2 separate regions of the Homo sapiens genome follow, and region 1 is linked to region 2. The links come from fine-mapping of genetic effects on gene expression. Tissue or cell type: whole blood. Region 2 holds a variant in brackets; the other region holds the start of a gene. All regions are shown on one strand. Distances are from middle to middle.

Region 1 (2,604 bases), 110 kb before region 2:
GCGCCAGGTATATTTATAGAAGGGAGCAAGACTACTATGGAGGGATGATGACAGAAGAGGAAGTTTCTTCCGCCCGGTAGAGACAGCCTGTGGAAAGATCTGGATTCCACAGCCTAGGTTCCACTCCTGACTCGTCAACTACCAGCTATGTAAACTTACTAAAACCTTTTTGGTCTGTTACCTTATGTATAAAATGCAGATAATGCCCCATTCCCTCAGAAGGTTGTCAGAATGATGAACGAGCATTGTGTATGTAAAACCTGGGACGTGATAGGCATTCAATAAATGTCGATCTGTCCTGCCCATCCTCCTGTTCACCCAGAATTGCGCCTCAAAAAATCACAAAGAGAGCCTGCAGCGTTAAAACTAAGAGGCCCAAGCTGGTTGGCAGGGAAAGAAACGACTTGGGTGGGGGCTCGCTTATTTCCTGGAGGACTTGGTTTAAAATGGAGTTAGGATATTGATCATGGACAAGACACACAGAAAAAGCACCAAGTACTAGCAAAACTGACAACAACAAAAACAAAAAGACATCCCTTTACTGTGAGCACGAAACAAACTTCGGAAGCAGCGGACATCCTGTGAACCTACTCAGTGGCCTCAATTAAAATCCCGAGGGTACCAAGAGCTAACCCAGAGGCACACCAGCCATATGCCGCCTCGTCAGTTTCAGGCCACGCCATTCCGCAAAACTGTCCGCAAGCCCTGACGGCTCTCGCGCCTCCACGCCTGGCCCAGATGCGTCTGGATGTCAGGAGCGAGCGGCAGAAGGGTACGGGGTGGGAAAGCGGAGAGGTCCGGTTGAATGTTTGAAAAACAAGGCGGTGGGTGAGGGGGCGGGGTGGAGCAATGTGGCAGAGACGCGGCCAGCGAGCCTGAGAGACCGCGGCTTCACAATGAACGAAAGGAAGAGACTGCGACAAGCGCCGGCGCCCGGTCCCCGGCGGGGACGGATGGTGAGGCCGGGGGCGCGCAGACGTGGGAAGCCGGGAAGGGGGCGCGGGATGCAACGAGTGAGTCGCTGACCAGGCAGGGAAGCCAAAGAGCTCCCAAGCAGGTGCAAAGCCCCCAAGCGAGCAGGAACGGACTGGGGATACTCACGGTGTAAAGCAGGTTGAGGGCGCACAGGCAGTTCTTGGAACACGCGAAGCCCCCGCAAACCATCTTGGAACCTGTGGTTGCCGGCAGCTGCACGTAAATTCGACTCCGGCGGAGGTTCCCTGACAGCTGCTTTGTCCTTGCCTTTGGGGCCTGGCCCAGGCGGGGCAGCAACGCAGACGTGGGTGGGGGGCCGGGGCCTGGGGCTGCAGTGCGCGGCGCGCGCGCGGCGGCGGCTCGGACCCGCTTTGGAACCTGCGGCCGCCGCAGCTGAGCCGGAGCAGGAGCCCGAGCCCCGCCCAGCCCCTTCGTCTCGCCCCGCGCGCTGATTGGCCGCTGGCAGGGAACAAAGGTAGAAATATGCAAATAAATGCGCTCCGCCGACCGGGATCCGGGAGGGGCGGAGCGGTCCCGGGGCGAGGGGGAGAGGGCCAAGGCCGTGTGGGAGGGAGCCCCAGGCCAGAGCGGCGGCCTTGGTGTAGTTTCCCCAGGAGCAGGTGAGGAGGGAGGGCGGGGCTCGGAGGAGATCCACGCTGGCAAGGAGAAATATGACAGCACCTCTGGATTCTTGGCCCTGGCAGATGACGTGGCACCATTTTGAATGAGATTTCAAAACTAAGCACCTGGCCTTGTTTGAGGGAAGGAAGGCAGGAAGCAAGTAATGAATGAAAACATGTGAAAGATTTAAAAGAGAACGAAGTAGAGGCAAATGAAAGGGAGAAAATAAGTGAAACAATAAAAAATAAAATAAAATCCCTGCTTCTCTCAGAAAATAAGATATGTGCCCTATAATTGTGACCTGGACAGGTCAGACTTATCCTACAAAGATTTGCAAAATACTAATAAACTTTATGAATACATGCATGCAAAGGAAAATCAAGAGCGGGAGAAGGTGGGGATGGTTAATAGGTCCAAAAAAATAGAAAGAATGAATAAGACCTACTATTTGATAGCACAATAAAGTGACAATCGTTAATAAGAACTTAATTGTGTATTTTAAAATAACTTAAAGAATGTAATTGGATTGTTTGTAACTCAAAGGATAAATGTTTCAGAGGATGGATACCCTATTCTCCGTGATGTGCTTATTTCACATTGCATGCCTGTATCAAAACATCTCATGTACCCCGTAAATATATACATCTGCTACGTGTCAACAAAAGTTTTTTAAAAAATTTTAAAAAGAAAATCAAGAGAGATTATTTTTGTGTTCTGGTCGTGAATTTCAATAAACTTATTTTTTCACAAAAATAACTGAAAATCTTCAAATAACTCAGACTTCACCTCAATTAATTCATTATCAGTTTACTGCTTCTCTACTATAGAAATGCATCTTGTATCCTTAATTCCTCACCTATAAATTGAGATTTTAGAAGTATGTCAAGCACTTTTTGCATAGTGGCTGGCACAGGGGAAGGCCTCAATAAATGTCAGCTAGTATTCATAGATCTGACATTTTGTAAAGGCCTACTGTGTTCCAGGCACTAAGCGAAGGCAATAAAGGTT
Region 2 (2,759 bases):
TGCGGCGATTCGTGCAGCAGCAGCGGCAGCAGCAGCAGCAGCAGCAGTGGCGGCAGACAATGGAGGAGTGAAGGACAGACACATTGACATAGACACACGGAACCCGGCGCAGCCCCGCCTCCCGTACCGCCCCCGTCTCCTAGACCGCCCCCGCCCAGACTGCGCCACTCCCGGGGGAATGGTGGGGGTACGGCGACAACCTGGGGCCTCTGCATGCCCCAGAAAGCCGTCGCTGAGCACATAACTGCCAGCTGTAGAATTTTCAATATTACATGTGGCGAAATATTTGAACCGGACAGGATAGGGGAGCGGAACGTGTAGGAGGAATTTAATTCCCCCCTCCAGCTTTCTGCATTTGGTTTTGTCCTCCCAGGTTGCTCCAATGGCGATCTCTCGCTACCGCCTCCTGCGGCTCCTCCTCCTCGGCAGGGCCAATGACAGGCGGCAGGCGGTGACCGCCGCAGGGCCTGCGGAGACCGTCCGCCTGGCTCGCCCGAGCTCGCCCGCTGTCCGCCAGCCCGCGGGAGGGAGGAGAGAAGCGAAGCGTTTCCGCGGTTGGCTACTCAGTGTCTTGGTCTCAAGTTGCCTCATTGCGGCTGGCGTTCCCAATACAGACGCATCGTTTCTTTTTTAATACTCCCTAAGAAAGGGAATAACCTTCAAGCTGGCGGGAGCAATGGTTCACATAAAGAAAGGCGAGCTGACCCAGGAGGAGAAGGAGCTACTGGAAGTCATCGGGAAAGGTACGGGTGCTGGGCTGCGACGCGGCCGCGGCCAGCCTGGCCGGGGGGCGTGGCGGAGCCCGGGGGGCGCTCCTGGCCTGGGTGACCTTTGGCTGCGGTTCTGCAAGGTTTGCAGCCTGGAACCGGGAAAGAGCGTTTCTCCCTTTGGTCTGGGAAAGGTTGCAGGGGCGGAGAGGTGGGGAGGCAGAAGCAGTGCTGGGACAAGAGGGGTAGTTACAGAGGCTCGGCCTCTAAATCCGCTTTTGGAAACGTACGGATTTCCACGCCCCGCCTTAGGTTAATGCGAGCTTCCCGGGGTGTGGACCCCAGTGTGTGAATTCTTCACTGCTCCCGAGGGATTTTGACCGCGGTCAGTCCTGGTAGTTTCAGGTTCTTAGGCGGGTGTCTAAATGACCCTTTAGACTTCCGCAGGCCGAATGATCTGGATCCTTTGCCGATCCCCGCCCCCGCTTGGGAGTGGAGGGCGCCCTTAGGGAGAGGGGTTCTTCATAAGGGTACAGAACTAGGTCTGTAATTTGCTGCATTGAGACTTCCGTATCCAGGGCCTCCCTGGCTTCCAGAAGCCCCGACAGCCTCAGGAACCCTAGAGAGACAAGGAAATTGGCGAGGCCTCCACACCCACCCCTCGGCCCACGTTGCACAGATGAGACCTTCTAATCGCGCTCCTTCGCGCTTTCTTGTCCACTCCCCCAAGGCGTGCCCCACTTCCGCAGTGCTGAGTCCCAGCGGGGAGCCCCGAGGACGAGCCAGAAGCCATATTTCCCCGGAGTCCCCGAGTGGACGTCCCAGAGGAGTTCCCTGCCGAGTCCCGTTACCTGGCAGGTGACATCAGCGTGACTGCATGCTTCTTCTGCACCCTCACGGTGCAGGGATGGTGATGCGTG[C/G]GACTCCGGGCAATTAATGTGGTGATTTTAAACTCAATAATAATATAGCCATGTTTGTCCTCGAATGGCAGAGATGCCAGTCATTGCAGCATAAGGCTTCCCAGTTTCCAGTTTTATTTACTTAGTAGCCAGGCTGAAATGTGGAATCCTAGAGAATAAGGCAGATTTATTCTTCATAGCGACAAGGAAACTCCACATGCGAAGGAGAAAAAATTCCGGTTTGAACTCAACAGGTGCTGATGAGCTGAGCCCACCCGATCTGATCTCAACTATTCTAAGTCAGTCACAGCTATATCTATCAATGATGTGTTCTTTGCCTGGAATTTGGGGATTTGGGTTAGAGTTTAGATTGTTGTACTGCATGGTTCTTGCTGACCTATTTGGCATTTCAGTCTTTCAGTTCTTCCTGTCTCTAGGTAATTTCTCCCTGCCTTTGATGGCTCTGGGATTCAATTAAGCAAACATGCAAGTTCTAGCTGTGTGCCAGGTACTGTGCTGGGCAAAAAGGAGACAAAGGATCAATTCACAATCCACCAGGGACAAAAATTCTTTTAGGCAGGACAGAGCTAGTACATGTCCTCTCTCTCTCTCGCTCTCGCTGTCTCTTTCTCTCTCTCTCTCGTTTGTTTGAGACAGGATCTCACTCTTCACCCAGGCTGGAGTTGCAGCTCTCTGCAGCCTCCACCTCCCTAGTGGCTGGGACTACAGGTGCGAGCCACCATGCCCGGCTACTTTAGAAAGATTTTTTTTTTTTTTTTGTAGAGATGGGGTGGTGGGGGTCTCCCTATGTTGCCCAGGCTGCTCTCGAACTCCTGGGCTCAAGTGATCCTCCTGCCTCGGCCTCCCTAAGTGCTGGGATTACAGGCATGAGCCACTGGGCCTGGCCCATCATGTGATCTCTTAAAAGTGAAAAATAGTGAGCAGTTTTATAAATTGAGTCTTTGAGAGGGGAGAAGGGATTCCTTGGATACATTCTCAGGTGTCCATCAGTATTTATTTTGAAGATTATATAAACCTGAATTAATGTGCATTTATTCTGGTTAGTGCTGTGATATTTCTGGGCTCACACGGTGCATCAAGTTGCATGAGTGCACTGATGCTTTCATCGCTTTCATTGGACCATGCCAATGAG

Evidence for each region. PIP is the estimated chance that this variant, and not a neighbour inherited with it, causes the effect.
Region 1: it holds the start of TSPAN13, and the variant in region 2 is fine-mapped to the expression of TSPAN13 in whole blood (TOPMed, PIP 0.94).

What each region holds. Positions count from the first base shown.
Region 1 is chr7:16,752,528-16,755,131 of GRCh38, reverse strand. TSPAN13 (tetraspanin 13) reads right to left here and starts at 1,377. Exons shown (of 6, transcript NM_014399.4): 1 at 1,102-1,377. The coding sequence starts at 1,164.
Region 2 is chr7:16,643,491-16,646,249 of GRCh38, reverse strand. It overlaps ANKMY2 (ankyrin repeat and MYND domain containing 2), which reads left to right and starts at 496. Exons shown (of 10, transcript NM_020319.3): 1 at 496-743. The coding sequence starts at 677. BZW2 (basic leucine zipper and W2 domains 2) reads right to left here and starts at 69. Exons shown (of 12, transcript NM_014038.3): 1 at 1-69. RefSeq lists an enhancer at 90-369. The variant C/G (reference allele first, on the strand shown) is at 1,628.